2 separate regions of the Homo sapiens genome follow, and region 2 is linked to region 1. The links come from fine-mapping of genetic effects on gene expression. Tissue or cell type: lung. Region 1 holds a variant in brackets; the other region holds the start of a gene. All regions are shown on one strand. Distances are between the middles of the regions.

The links. PIP is the estimated chance that this variant, and not a neighbour inherited with it, causes the effect.
Region 2: NXN starts here. The variant in region 1 is fine-mapped to the expression of NXN in lung (TOPMed, PIP 0.95).

What each region holds. Positions count from the first base shown.
Region 1 is chr17:928,827-936,929 of GRCh38, forward strand. The region is part of intron 1 of NXN (nucleoredoxin); the gene reads right to left. Among named protein-coding and RNA genes, the nearest start is that of NXN, 47 kb to the right of the region's middle. The variant C/T (reference allele first, on the strand shown) is at 4,451.
Region 2 is chr17:975,637-983,739 of GRCh38, forward strand. NXN (nucleoredoxin) reads right to left here and starts at 4,140. Exons shown (of 8, transcript NM_022463.5): 1 at 3,683-4,140. The coding sequence starts at 4,042. RefSeq lists enhancers at 3,053-3,988, 5,413-5,707.

The DNA.
Region 1 (8,103 bases):
CTCTGTCTCAAAAAATAATTAAGGAAATAAAAGATACTGGAGAATACCGCTCACATGTGCAGATATCAAGAAGACTAGCAGATGAGCAAATGGCCTAAACGCGTAATCAGCTGTATAAATGCAATACACATCATAACTTTTAGGAACTGTTTGCAATTCACACTTAATTCCCACAGAGTAAAGCCGAGGCCTTAAATTAGTGAATGGCATATGTGCTTTGTTTGGCTTTGCCCAATGTCAAGAAAAATTTTAACTGGCTAACAGCATGTAAAACTTAACTAGCTTCACATAAAAACCCAGTTTGTTAGCTTGAAAAATCAGAAGAGCTGGCAACGTCGGCCTTCATTACGGCAACAGGCAGCTGGAGGTGAGCGCCGGCTTTCCCCGAGGGCTGGCTGCGGCCCTCCACTCTGTCCCCCACCACCTGGCCCAGGCCACTCGCTTCACCTGCCTGGCCCTCTACTGGCATTTGAGTTGGTGAGTCCTGCAGGAAAACACTGGTTCACGTTATTAAATATGTCCAATTGGCTACACGTTTTGACTGTGCACGAAACTCCAGCTCGGTCTTCACTTACAGCTTTTGCAGGTTTAGCTCCTGTAGCAAGATCCAACATCTGATCTCACAGCTTCACAATGACAACCTGTCTGTGAAGAACATCCCAGTTTTCCAGTGTGCCCCCCTACCCTCTGGTTTATTTAACCTTCCCAATATTCCAGGAAGGCTGGGCTTATTGTCCAAAATAGAAGGGCGATCAACCAGCTAACAGGAACTAAAACCGGGATTTCAACTCAGGACTTGGGTTCAACCTTAGCTTAGCATTTCCCACCATACCTACCACGCATCCCTCAATCCCTGGAGGCGGCTCTGATTCCAGACTGACCCAACCGGAGGAGGCTCAAGTCCAGGTTGCAAAGCAGCTGGGCTGCTCTGGAAAGAGCGTTTGGAATCCTTGCTTCACTTCCGTTTTTAATCTTCTTAAAAAAAACTGTGTAGTAGTGTTTAATCCAAAGACAGCTGATTCCCATTTACACGTAACCTGTTGAACTCACATACTAAATTTTAAAGCTCTGCTCTCGAAAATGCAGTTTGCTCTTTAAGATCTCCTTGGTAACACATCTAACTGGTATCTGAACTACAGAAAAAAAAAAAAAACTTTGGAATCAATCAATGACGGGGGTTAGAATAAAATCCAACTCAGGAAAGTACCGAAGAAAGTTCCAGAATGACAGCTGTGTAGCCGACCCAGAGAACCACCTGTGTCTGGAATGGAGGAGGACTGGTAACTCCCAGGAAAGGGGACTCTCCAAGTTAAAAAGGGGACTCAGGCTGGGTGCAGTGGCTCACACCTGTAATCCCAGTACTATGGGAGACTGAGGCAGGCAGATCACCGTGAGGTCAACAGTTCAAAACCAGCCTGGCCAAGATGGTGAAACCCCATCTTTACTAAAAATACAAAAATTAGCCAGTGTGATGGCGGATATCTGTCATCTCAGCTACTCAGCAGACTCAGGCAGAAGAATCACTTGAAGCCGGGTGGCGGAGGTTGCCAGTGAGTTGAGATCGTGCCATTGCATTCCAGCCTGGGTGACAGAGCGAGATTCCGTCTCAAAAAAGAAAAAAAAATACCACTTGAACTTGCCACAAACAATATTTACAGACACAACAATGCCCCTATTGATTGACTGGCTGATTTTCAACTACACACAAAGCATGAATCCCGGTGACACAACACAATGTAAATACGAACAACCTTGACAAAGCTAAAGGTACAAAAAATAGGAAGGAAGTGCAGGAGACCTGATGGGCAGGATAGAAAGACACCAACGTTCCCAAAGTCCTATTGAAGGATAAGGAGTAAAGGCATAAACATGTTATTAAATGCTAAAAGTGTAACCAGGAAAACCGTAAATGGTGGTATACCAAGAGGACAAAGAAAGTTGAGTTTGCTTTTTTTTTTTTTTTAGACAGAATCTCGCTCTGGTTGCCCAGGCTGGAGTGCAGTGGTGCGATCTCGGCTCACTGCAACCTCTGCCTCCCGGGTTCAAGTGATTCTCCTGCCTCAGCCTCCTGAGTAGCTGGGACTACAGGTGTGAGCCACCACGCCCAGCTAATTTTGTATTTTTAGTAGAGATGGGGTTTCACCATGTTGGTCAGGCTGGTCTCGAACTCCTGACCTCATGATCCGCCCGACTCAGCCTCCCAAAGTGCCGGGATTACAGGCGTGAGCCACCGCACCCGGCTGGTGAGTTTGCTTTTAAGGGAGCTAAATCGATCTCTAGCCTAGCAGAAAACCAACACATAATGTTGAAGTTCGCCGGGTGTGGTGTCGCACGCCTGTAGGCCCAACGACACAGGAGGCTGAGGTGGGAGAATTGCCTGAGCCTAGCAAGTCGAGGCTGCAGTGAGCTGAGATCGCGCCACTGCACTCCAGCCTGGGCGACAGAGCGAGACTCCATCCAAAAAAAAAAAAAAAAAATTAGCTGGGTGTGGTGGTGTGTGCCTGTAATCTCAGCTACTGGAGAGGCTGAGGCAGAAGAAATGCTTAAACCTGGGAGACGGAGGTTGTAGTGAGCAGAGATCACACCACTGCACTCCAGCCTGGTGACAGAGCAAGGCCCTGTCTCAAAAAAAAAAAACAAGAAAGATAAAGTCATATAATAAGCCTATGTATACTACTTGATTTTGTTTTCGCCATAAGCACATGTTATTTATTTTAAAAAAATTTTTGGCCGGGCGCAGTGGCTCACACCTGTAATCCCAGCACTTTGGGAGGCCGAGGTGGGCGGATCGTGAGGTCAGGAGATCGAGACCATCCCGGCTAACACAGTGAAACCCTGTCTCTGCTAAAAATACAAAAATTAGCCGGGCGTGGTGGCAGGCGCCTGTAGTCCCAGCTACTCGGGAGGCTGAGGCAGGAGAATAGCATGAACCCGGGAGGCGGAGCTTGCAGTGAGCTGAGATCACGCCACTGCACTCCAGCCTGGGCGACAGAGTAAGACTCCGTCTCAAAAAAAAAAAAAAAAAAAAAATTTTTGGCCGGGCGCAGTGGCTCACGCCTGTAATCCCAGCACTTTGGGAGGCCGAGGCGGGGGGATCACTCGAGGCCAGTAGATCAAGACCAGCCTGGCCAAGACGGTGAAACCCCATCTCTACTAAGAATACAAAAATTAGCCAGGTGTGGTGGTGGGTGCCTATAATCCCAGCTAATGGGGAGGCTGAGGCAGGAGAATCGCTTGAACCTGGGAGACGGAGGTTGCAGTGAGCTGAGATTGCACCACTGCACTCCAGCCTGGGCAATAGAGCAAGACCCTATCTCAAAAATAAAACAAAACGAACAATTTTAGAAATGTTTAATTATTTGGAATCCTGGAAAAAAAAGCTAAGGCAAAGCTGATCTGAAGAGTCTGTCTACCTGCCCAGCTACCAACCCAAACCGGCCTTGTTTTGGTCCTAGGCGGCGGTTCTTAAACTCTGGTCCCTGGACGTACGGCTTCCGGGTTGCCTGGGAACTGTTGCTAGAATTGCAAACTACTGGGCCCCAGCCTGGACCTACCAAGTCAAGAACTCTGGGATGGGGCCCAGGAATCCGCATTTAACCAGTCCTTCTGGTTATTCATCAGTTTGGAAACCGCAGGTCTTCAGCAAAACAAAACTCTGAGGCGGCGTTGGGTCCAGTCGTCGTCTCCTCAGCGAGTAAGGCAGCTTCAGGGGAAGGCCTGAGCCCCTTCTAAGAAAACACAGGCTGGATTTTAAAGGATCTCTAGGGCTAGTTTCCCCAGGTTCTGGGCCCCTGCCCTGTGTGAGCTCTAGTGGGGTCAGCAGCAAGGACCCATCACCGGAAGAGGCTTCTGAGAGGCACCGACTTTTGCCATCAGTGGGCAGCGAGTGGGCTGTGTGGTCCCCGGACAAGCAGCTGAGTGGGTGGGGAGTGCCTTGTTGTGGCCGGCTTCGCATAAGTCATCTGCGCCCGCCACCACGCCAGGCTAATTTTTATATTTTTAGTAGAGATGAGGTTTCTCCATGTTGGCCAGGCTGGTCTCGAACTCCTGACCTCAGGTGATCCGCCCGCCTCGGCCTCCCTCAGTACTGGGATTCCAGGCGTGAGCCACCGCGCCCAGCCCAGCCCGTCCTCTTGAACCTGCTCAGTTTCAGTCGTCATGACCACTTGTAATATCCCTTCCCACTAACATCAAAGGCTGTGGCCCGAAGCTCCCAAGTGGGCGAAAAAGTCCCGAGAGGTTCCAGAAGGCAAGATCATTCTGGGGCCACGAGGACCGAGAAACGACACAACCAACCACAGAACAGAAAACTCTTGTGGATCTGATGTGATTCTGTACTCCAGATTTGCAGTTACCACTTACAGAAGCCAACGTCCACCTCTGAAACACAGAACCCCCTAACTGGTGCGAGGCAGCTGAAGACAAAGTTGAGGCCTTTGGGAGAAGAGCT[C/T]GGCCAGAGGAGGAAATCTGATTAGTAAAAAGATAGGCAGCCAAGAAGTAAATTAAATGAATGCTCACAGAGAAAGCACTCGAGACAGGAGCGGGAGAGACTCCGGGCACACATCGCGACAGGGACAGAAAAGCTTTCAGGATGGGGGTGGGGGAAGGGGAAGAACTGGTTTTCTAATATTAGACTCACGACATGCTCACTTCCCAAATCCCAGCCAAAATGAGGGCCCCTTGACTCCGACAAGCCCAGGCCACCTTCTGCTTGGATACACACTTTCTGCACCAGGACTCTGCGTGAATGCCAAGGCAAATTCCATCCCTCTCAACTCCCCACCGCAACACCAAATGACTCACACAGCTTATCTTGAAATTCCCCCTTTCATCTTGGCCTCCCACTAACTTAAAACAATGCAATAAGAACACATTCAAGACACCTCCAGTAAATCCATATCCGTATTATTCACGAGGCACTAACTAGAAAGCTGTTTATCCTGAAGCCTACGTGGTCAACTTTAGAAATGTGCCTTCGTGTAAGCTGGTTTTTATAAAATAAATAAAAAGCCTCCACAAATACCAGAACACTTATCAATTTGGACTAAAGTCGTGGATTCCAATACAAGCAGCCAAGGTCCTCAAGCCTCAAGCATAAACATCCCTTGCCTTTTATTAATTGAAAAATAAACAGGAGGGGAAATGGGTGGCATGCCTCACTATGTGATTTAAAACAAATGACACGATGTTCTCAAACTTCAATTAATTTTTAAAAAGGCATTTTATTTTTCACTTTATGATTATAAAAGTCATACATGCAGACTATGGGGAAATTTAGAAAGTACAATAAGAAGGCCAGGCGCCGTGGCTCACGTCTGTAATCCCAGCACCCCGGGAGGCCGGGCGCGGTGGCTCACGCCTGTAATCCCAGCACTTTGGGAGGCTCAGGCAGGCGGATCACGAGGTCAGGAGATTGAGACCATCCTGGCTAACACGGTGAAACCCTGTCTCTACTAAAAATACAAAAAAATTAGCCGGGCGTGGTGGCGGGCACCTGTAGTCCCAGCTACTGGGGAGGCTGAGGCAGGAGAATTGCGTGAACCCGGGAGATGGAGCTTGCAGTGAGCCGAGATAGCACCACTGCACTCTAGCCTGGGCAACACAACGAGACTCTGTCTCAAAGAAAAAAAAAAAAAGTACAATAAGAAGAAAACTTACTTCTGGAAGTAAGAGAAGTATAGAAAGTCATTTCTGGAAAAGACGCTGAATTGGTGACTTACAGTCAAGAAATTCCCAAGTCTGGCCAAATTCCAACCCAAATTCTCGGCCAGGCACAGTGGCTCATGCCTGTAATCCCAGCACTTTGGGAGGCCAAGGTGGGTGGATCACCTGAGGTCAGGAGTTCGGGACCAGCCTGGCCAACACGGTGAAACCCCATCTCTACTAAAAATACAGAAATTAGCTGGTCGTGATGGCACGCACCTGTAATCCCAGCTACTTGGGAGGCTGAGGCAGGAGAATCGCTTGAACCCGGGAGGCGGAGGGTGCAGTGAGCCGAGATCGTGCTATTTCACTACAGCCTGGGTGACAGGAAGACGCCATCTCAAAAAAAAGAAAAGAAAGAACATTCTTTTAGCCCAGTCCCAAGCGGACTGTCTGGACAGAGTCCTCACTTGCTGCCACTCATTATTGCATCATTTTGCTGTGCTCTTTATTTTTTTTTATTTATTTATTGTTTTTTGAGATGGGGTCTCTCACCCTGTCTCCCAGGCTGGAGTGCAGTGGTGTGATCTCGGCTCACTGCAGCCTCCACTACCCAGGTTCAAGTGATTCTCCTGCCTCAGCCTCCTGAGTAGCTGGGATCACAGGTGCATGCACTACCACGCCCAGATAATTTTTGTGTTTTTACTAGAGACAGGGTTTTACCATGTTGGCCAGGATGGTCTCGAACTCCTGGCCTCAGGTGATCTGCCCACCTTGGCCTCCCAAAGTGCTGGAATTACAGGTGTGAGCCACCGCGCCCGGCCTTGCTGTGCTCTTTAAACAGCCGCAGGACTCTGCTCCAATTCCTTCGTATCTGGGAATCCTCTGGCACAAAACCCCCACCTCCTATATCATGTGGTCTGTGTGACAGCCAGAAACCCCCCAGCTGAAGAACACTGAGAAGTGGGAGGCTTCCGCTCGGTCATGGCCGGCGGGACAAGGAGATGCTTAAAGGTCTGGCAAGGTTGTAGGAAAAGACCAAGACACTTCAGGATCCAGCTTTAGGATGTGCTGGCGGCTGCAACAAACATGCACTCTGATCAATGAGCTCTGCGCTCATTCACTCCACACGTGTTTACTGAGCGTCTACTGTGTCTAAGACCCTGAGCTCTGCAGAACACGCCCAGGAATCACAGAAGGAGCTTGCTCTGAGAGCTGGGAGAGCCTGCTATTCATGCGGGTATTGACTGTTGCCATCCTGCAGAACAAAGCCAGCTTTCATAACATCCCACTAGATACCATGCCAGCCACATCCTTGCCTGGAATAAAACCTGCAGCCTAGGCCGGGCGCAGTGACTCACGCCTATAATCCCGGCACTTTGGGAGGTGGAGGCAGGTGGATCACCTGAGGTCGGGAGTTTAAGACCAGCCTGACCAACATGGTGAAACCCAGTCTCTACTAAAAATACAAAATTAGCTGGATGTGGTGGTGCATGCTTGTAATCCCAGCTACTCAGGAGGCTGAGGCAGGAGAATCGCTTGAACCCAGGAGGTGGAGGTTGCGGCGAGCCAAGATCGTGCCACTGCACTCCAGCCTGGGCAACAGGGCAAGATTCCATCTCAAAAAAAAAAAAAAAAAAAACCTCCAGCTCCTGCTTGTGCTTCCATCGATTGTCCTCCAAAAGATGGCTGGAGTGTGTCCCTCTCACCAGCACGCCACTCGATTCAACCTATGGACTCAAGACACGCCATCGGGCTCAATGCTGTGGGGCCTGGTGGAAGCAACCTCCTGTTGTTAGACCAGAAACGTCCCCTGCGACAAAGCCTTTGGTTTTGCTTTGTGTTCTTCTCCCGTGGGGTGGAAGAGCCGCCCTCCCTCTGAGGCACTGCAGCGACGGGTGCCCTGGTGAGTGTCCACGGTGAGGTGGTGAGTGTGCACCACACACAACCCGGCCAGCATCTGCCCAGGTCAAGCCCATCCTGTCAGTGCACACGCCGCGTGCTGCCACCACCCAGCTCGATGATTCTCTCCTTCCACACCTTCCGGTCCCCAAAAGTGACTGAAAGCAGGATTCTGCTGCGGAAAAACTGGACTTGGAGGAAGGGCAGGAGAGAAGGGCGAGGTGTGTCGGCCTGCCTCAGGTCTGGGGTGCCCAATTCTGGTTGTGCAAACAGTGAGGGAAAAAAAGGGTGCTACGATGTCTGGCTAAAACGGGGCATCAGAGCTGTCGGCGGTACCAGTTTTCAGAATCCATGGATTTATAACGGATTTCTTTTCTAACTTGCAAACGCATACGAGATACTTCACAGAGGTATTACAGTTAAGTCACACTTCCCCACATAAGCTCACCTTTAATGAAAAAGTTAAAATGACATAAAACTGGGAGTGTTCCAGAAAAGGCAGGCCTGTGTTCACCATCACAACACCTATGGATAGAAAAGAGGCAGAAAGGCCGGGTA
Region 2 (8,103 bases), 47 kb after region 1:
TGTCCAGAGGAAGCCAGTGGTCTGCACCCTTGGATGTCAGTGCACCCACACTGACCATATGTTTTTGATCAGGCATCCAGCCCAGACAAAGTTGAGCTCTGCGACTTTAACACCAAAAGAGTGCTCACTTCTATGAGGCTGAAGTGGATCCCGGAGACGGACCTCTCCAGTCTTGACGAGTGAGTAACATACTAATCCAAAGGGAAGACCAAATCCCCAAAGTCCAAATTTCACCACCTCCTGACTATCGATCACATTCCTTCTCTCTAGAAATGTGAAAATCATCTACCAACCTACTTATTAAAACAAGTCTAACTGCCTTAACTTCAGGATTATAGATTTGCTGATGAAATTGTTATAAATGCTCTCAAAGTTCTATTACCATCTAATTACAATTTATGCACAGCTATATAATAATGTGTGTTTTGGAAGCTGAAATAATATGTGTTTTGGAAGCCAAAAAAATTAAGCTTCAATTACTTTTGTACCTACCATGACAACAGGCAGAAACAGGACAATTTTGTATAAAGAATGTTTTTTTACATTTTTGTCCTTTTTTTTTTTGGTGTTTTCTCACAGTTCCTGTCAAGGTGAGAGGAACCAGGCAAAATGCAGGCTTAACATATACGGTCATCCCCAGGTTTTTTTTAACTATATAAAGGAGAAATTAATAAAAGAAAAAAAGAAATACCACACAGCATTTTCTTTCCCCACCATAATTTTTCAATTTTCTTTAGAGAAATGCCAGCCAATAACTAATTAGAACCATACCCTTTGTTATCCCAATGGGAAGAAGTATACGCATGGGCTTAAAGAACAAATGTTAATGAGAATTTAAAAAAAATTAGCAATCTGGAACTCTGGTTTCCCTTCAGTGTAAAACAAAATTCCCTTCTCTAGAGTTATTTTTATCATTGGCGAAATGACACGGATAGAGTCCATCCACAAGACGTGTTCACCCATCCAGTGCCCTCAGCTGGGAGAACTCCGGCTCTTCACTTGTTCTGATGGGGAAATTAGCATCATTAGCTCACGGGCTTCTAAGCACCCTAACTTCAAATGAGACAAAAACTCAGTTACAGAAAAGGCATTTGTTCCACATCTCTTTGGTTTCAAGGGGGAAAATAATTCCTTTTTTTTTTTTTTTGAGACAGAGTTTCGCTCTTGTTGCCCAGACTGGGGTGCAATGGTGCGATCTCGGCTCACCGCAACCTCCGCCTCCCAGGTTCAAGCGATTCTCCTGCCTCAGCCTCCCTAGTAGCTGGGACTAGAGGCATGCGCCACCAGGTCTGGCTAATTTTGTATTTTTAGTAGAGACGGGGTTTCTCCATGTTGGTCAGGCTGGTCTGGAACTCCCGACCTCAGGTGATCCGCCCACCTCAGCCTTCCAAAGTGCTGGGATAACAGGCATGAGCCACCGCACCCGGCAATAATTCCTTTTAAAATCAGCACGTAGCTTTTGTAATTTCCAAGAGTATGTGTTCCATAAGAAGGACAGCTGGAGTCTTTTTACCTGGTATATATCCCCGAGAAAGATCTTGAGTGGTTTGTTCACGACCAAGGAAAGAAACTACCTCCTTGAAAACTGGACTGGTTTTAGAGAATAAAGTATAGGATGTGAGTCAGAAAAACTCTGGGCCAAAAAATAAAATGTTTAAGATGCTAACGCACCAGGGTTTGGGCACGTCCAGCACTCTCAACGGTATTTTCAAATGAGAGTCTGCCCTGTGTCATCCAGGTTCTCATCATGGAGGAATCAGCAGGTCCAGGCTAGGGCCGCAGAATACTTTTTGTCATGCAAAGAGCCTGTCCAGGGTATAGAGAGCCAGCCATGGCCCATGTCCTATCAAATATTCTCCTTTTTCGGAAAAAGCTCTAAGCATTTGCAAAACATCTGTTTGCTCCATATTTTTACTATCCAAAAAATGTATTTCCTCTTCAGTAAAAAACACAACAATAGGCTGTTAAGCCTGTAACATTTTACCATAATTCTATGTTTTCAAAAGCTAGAAATCATTTGTATTGCCGGATAAGGACATTATTTTAAGTAGACTTTAGTCTACAACAGAAACTTGCCGTAACAATGAAAATGTTTTTTGGCAAATCCCTTTCTGAACATTATTTCTCCACGAACGTATCACAAAAACCACCACCAAGGAAAACAAAGGATTCTCGTATTTTGAATCAAAAAGTACTGGCCATGCATATTCATACTATATCAAGCATGTCAATCAAAATGGGCAAAATAACCTAAAAAGCAGTAAAAATGCCAACTCTTGCCTCTGAGTGGTTAGTGAACCTATGTTTTCCCAATATGAAATTTACAAACTGCATCGGATCAACTGTATTTCATACTTTAAATCTCGAATCTCTACCTCCCACTGCTTCGGGATGGATGATTTACTCAAGACATTTGGGGTCACAGTGTAAGCCTTTTGCTCCCAGTAAATCTAAATCATGCTTCTCAACAAGATTCTGCACATATAAAAGGAACACGTGGCACGCCTCGCCATGCTCCCCAGAGGAAACTAAACGCCCCCAGAATAGCCCTTCTGTCCACTCCAGAAACAGGCTTTCCTCAAAAAGGGAAAGGGGCTGGATTCACACGTTGCATCATATACACTCACGAAGCAACAGCGCTCCAAAACTTTTTCTGACTCCATTCATTACAAAATGTCCTGGATGTGCTTTATTATCACAGAGACAGACATCCTCACCCAAGGGACACACTCAGAAACCCAAACTCAACTCGGCAGCAAACTGGGAGACACGAGAAGTTGACAGCAAAGTATCCATTTCCCCAAATCCTCCTTCTTCCAGTCAATGTGCATCGATGGGGTCAGCTCAGCCCTTAACTCGAAGACCCCGGGACCACAGGGGCCACCACGCAGCTGAGCTCTGCACAGCCCGGGCTGTTCCCGCGCCCGGGAGGCGTCTGGGGAGGAGGCTGGACGGCCAGACAATGCAAAGCTCCCCGGTGGCCGCGAACTCAGCCTGGGGCGGGGGAGGCGGGGGCGGGAGACGGAGCCGTGAGCGCCCTTCTCGGCCACAGCCACGGCCACGGTCACCGGCCGCCTCTCCTGACCTCGGCCTCGGCCCCCAGGTCCCCGGTCCCCGGGGAAGGGGCTCCGGGAAGGCAGGTTTCTCCCGGAAAGAAAGGAAACGCGCTGGTTTGGGCGCCACGGGCGGGGGGCGTGCGCCCTCCCCTCCCCTCCCCTCCCCACTGTGGGAATCCGCGGGGGTCGGCGGCGGAGGCAGGAAGGGCCTGGCGCCTCTGCTCGCGGGTGAAGGGGTCGCGGAACCGGGATCCCCGAGCGCAGCCGCCCCCACCCGAGGCTCCCAGCGTGTGCGGACGGAGGGGCTCGAGCCGGGATCCCGGGGGCCGAGGGGGGTCCAACTTTCCAGGGCGGGCGCAGCGCAGCACTCGAACCAAAGAGGGGTCCTGGGATGAGGGTGCGGGCACAGCGCGGAAGGGGGGGGGGCAGAGGCGGGGACGGCGGGGTGGGGGGCGGGGAGAGGACAGTGGGTCGGGGGGCGGGGGACTGGGGGCAGGGGTCGGGGGGTGGAGGGCGGGCAGGGGGACAACGGGGTTGGCGGAGGGCAGGGGTAACGGGCGTGGGGGGCGGGCAGGGGTAACGGGCGTGGGGGGCGGGCAGGGGCCGGCGAGGCCCGCGCCGCTCACCTTCCTGTGCTTCTCCTTGTAGGGCAGCGCCAGCCACGGCATGTCCCGCACGAAGTCCTGCCACTGCCGCTGGTCCTGGTCCGAGGACACGAAGACGATCTCCAGGCGCCGCCGCGGCTCGGGCTCCGCCGCCGCCCCGGCCCCCGCTCCCGGCCCCGGCCCGGCCGCCGCGTCCCCCCGCAGGCGCCCGTAGAAGGCGGCCAGGCTGGCGCTGAGCTGCGCGCAGGGGGCGCTGAGGCTGCAGCCGAAGTAGAGACCCAGCAGCGAGATGCCGCGGGCGCCCAGCGAGTGCACGTCCACCTCCTCGCCGCCGCCCGTCACCAGCTTCTCGCCGAGCAGCTCCTCCAGGAAGCCCGACATCCTGGCCCACCGCAGGGCGGGCAGGCGGCTGCGACCCCGCTCCACGGTCCGCGCGGCGGGAGGAGGCGGCGGCGTCGGCGGCAGGCGCTGGGGAGAGCAGAGCCCGGCCCAGTAGGGCCGCCCACGCCACGCCCCCTCCGCCTGCCCGCGCCACGCCCCTTCCCCCGCCCTGCCACGCCCCCTCCGCGGCCCGCGCCACGCCCCTTCGGCTGCCCTCGCCACGCCCCTCCGCCCGCCCTCGCCACGCCCCCTCCGCCCTCGCCACGCCCCGTTTGCGGCCGGCGGTGGCCAGAGCTCTCCGCCCAGGCGGGGTCCGCAGCTGCCGGCCGCGGTGCGCGGGGTGACTGCTTGGGCGAGAAGCCGGACCCGAAACGCCGCACTCTCCCTGGAAAGCCCACGGCCGAAGTGAAGAAAGGAGAAGGGCCCGCTGAGCCGGCGCTTTCCCGGGCTGCAGCCCGGCCCGCATTTTCTCTCCTCCCCAGTTCTAAATTCCCTCCAGACCTCCAGGGATCCCGCCCCCTCCCCGCGGAGCTCTTCACCCTCTTCCTGTTCCTCCCCGGCCTTTCCCTCCTCCTCTCCCTGCACGAAGCCTGACCCTTAGGCCGCTCCGGGCCCCACTGACCCTGAGATGCTTATAGGACCCGCCGTCCTCACTGCATCAGGCCGGGCCTGGCTGGACACTGACTCCTCTGTGTGTTCCAAGCTGTTCTAAGGGGGCCGAGGACGCCCTCGCAGCTTCTGGTGGGGTCTGGTTAGGGTGCCAGGTCTCAGTGTGGGATTTCCGTCCAGGGGTCGCCGGGGCCTCTCCCCCCAGCGAATCTGTCTTCCAGCCCCACAAATGGATGCAAAGGACGCCGCGGGGCCTCCAGACCAATGCTGGCCGCGCTCCTGAATCCGCTCCATCCTCATGTCAAGTCTATGGATAGTTGAGAACATTTCTAGAGATTTTTTTTTTCCTACCAGCTGGCAGGATGCTCCCCAATGCTTAGGGAGAAGCTGGATTAAACAGGTGGTCTGGGCCGGGCGCGGTGGCTCACGCCTGAATTCCCAGCACTTTGGGAGGCCGAGGTGGGTGGATCACAAGGTCAGGAGTTCGAGACCAGCCTGGCCAATATGGTGACACCCCCCCCCCGCCTCTACTAAAAATACAAAAATTAGCGGGGTGTAGTGGCAGGCACCTGTAATCCGAGCAACTCAGGAGGCTGAGGTAGGAGAATGGCGTGAAGCCGGGAGACGGAGGCTGCAGTGAGCCGAGATCGCTCCATTGCACTCCAGCCTGGGCAACAGAGCAAGACTCCGTCTCAAAAAAAACAAAAAAACAGGTGGTCCGTGGCGAGTACTCTGGCCACGCAGCGCCTCCCCCCAACCCAACCCACTGGTGCACGAAGCAGGTGCAGATCCGGGCCCAGCCACAGTAACAGGCCGCCGGTGTGGATCAGCTACTGACGACTCAGCGAAAGCAAAAAAATAAAAGCTGAAAACCCGCCCCTCTCAGAGCTTCCACCGCCGCTTCGGAGGATATTTCCTGTGCATCCATCGCCACCTAATGGAAAGAGTGAAAAATGAGGCCGACCAAACTCCATTTGTGAAAAGACACTGCCGGGACACCAGGCACAATGCTTTTATTTTACAGCAGCTTTCCACATACACAAATGATAGGACGCTTTGCGGGAGCTAATTTAAACCTCAGAATAGAACTTCAAGCTTTTGGCACAAAACGTAAGTGTTCACATCGAAGGTTCTCCGTTTTTCTAGGGTAGAATAAGGAATGGTGCAGGGTTCCAGCTTGGTGAAATGTTACCATATAAAACAATTGGGAGAGGTGGAGATGGGAGCGGAAAGTGGACTGGCGTCTCTACAAGTTATATCCACTTCCTTAGTCACCTGCTGGTATTGCTAATGACACAGGTAAGATCTTAGATGGAGGACCGCCTTCGAACACCCTAGAATCCTACTGCAAAGTCGAATTCCACCTTAATTCTCAGGAGACTTTCATGCTGAAAGTCTGTGCCACTGTAGGGACAATATTATAAAACACACACAGAAAGCATCACTTTTTAGTGAAAACTTTATTTATTTATTTATTTATTTATTTATTTATTTTGAGACAGTGTGGGCGGCAGGCCACCCAGGCGCTGAGGCAAGAGACCGAGGACACAAGCCGTTCCAGTGTAATAAAATATAAAATAAGAATAGTTATACCAGATATAGATCTTAGATAGGCTTATATATGAATATCATTAATCATTAGTTTGTAGCAATTACTCTTTATTCCCATATTATAATGATCCTCGCTCTATAATCATAATCTAGGGAAAACCAGGCCATACAGAGATAGGAGCTGAGGGGACATAGTGAGGAGTGACCAGAAGACAAGAGTGCGAGCCTTCTGTTATGCCCAGACAGGGCTACCAGAGGGCTCCTTGGTCTAGCGGTAACACCAGCGTCTGGGAAGACACCCGTGGCCAGGCGGACTGTGGTGTAGCGGTAGCGTAAGTGTCAAGGAAAAACACCCGCTACTTAGCAGACCGGGAAAGGGAGTCTCCCTTTCCCCGGGGGGAGTTTAGAGAAGACTCTACTCCTCCACCTCTTGTGGAGGGCCTGACTGCAGGTTCGCCCACAATTATCCGGAGGCCTAACTGTCTCCCTGTGATGCTGTGCTTCAGTGGTCACGCTCCTAGTCCGCCTTCATGTTCCATTCTGTACACCTGGCTCTGCCTTCTAGATAGCAGTAGCAAATTAGTGAAAGTACTAAAAGTCTCTAATAATGGTGGAAGCTGTTTCTCTCTTTGTCTCCTCTCTCTCTCTGCCTCGGCTGCCAGGCAGGGAAGGGCCCCCTGTCCAGTGGACACGTGACCCACATGACCTTACCTATCATTGGAGATGGCTCACTCTCCTTATCCTGCCCCTTTGTCTTGTATCCAATAAATATCAGTGCAGCCTGGCATTTGGGACCACTACCGGTCTCCGCGACTTGGTGGTAGTGGTTCCCCAGGCCCAGCTGCCTTTTATCTCTTTGTCTTGTGTCTTTATTTCTACACTCTCTCGTCTCCGCACACGGGGAGAGACCCACTGACCCTGTGGGGCTGGTCCCTACAGACAGAGTCTCACTCTGTTGCCCAGGCTGGAGTGCAGTGGTGCGATCTCAGCTCCTGCAACCTCTGCCTACCAGATTCAAGTGATTCTCCTGCCTCAGCCTCTCGAGTAGCTGGGATTACAGGCATGCACCACCTCCCAAATAGCTGGGATTACTGGCATGCACTAATTTTTTTGTTTTGTTTTGTTTGTTTGTTTTTTGCAACAGAGTCTTGCTCTGTTGCCCAAGCTGGAGTGCAGTGGCGCGATCTCGGCTCACTGCAAGCTCCGCCCCTCCAGGTTTAAGCAATTCTCTGCCTCAGCCTCTGGAGTAGCTGGGATTACAGGCGTCCGCCACCAAGCCTGGCCAATTTTTTGTATCTTTAATAGAGACGGGGTTTTCACCATACTGGCCAGGCTGGTCTCAAACTCCTGGCCTCAAGTGATCCACCCGCCTCAGCCTCCCAAAGTTCTGGGATTACAGGCATGAGCCACCACCCGGCCTTGGTGAAAACATTTAAAGCTACTCATATCATATATATTAAGTTACTAGGCCAGGTGAGGTGGCTCACACCTGTAATCCCAATACTTTGGGAGGCCGAGGCGGGCAGATCATGAGATCAGGAGATTGAGACCATCCTGGCTAACACAGTGAAACCCCGTCTCTACTAAAAATACAAAAAATTAGCCGGGCGAGGTGGCGGGCACCTGTAGTCCCAGCTACTCGGGAGGCTGAGGCAGGAGAATGGCATGAACCCGGGAGGCGGAGTTTGCAGTGAGCCGAGATCGCACCACTGCACTCCAGCCTGGGCGACAGGGAGAGACTCCATCTCAAAAAAAAAAAAAAAGTATATATATACACACACACACACACACACACACACACACACATAGTTACTAGACATCTTTTGAAATCCTGTAAATGGGTTACAATGTTTTATCATCTCATCCAAATCTTATCTGAAAGGCCCATGCACTGGGTACGT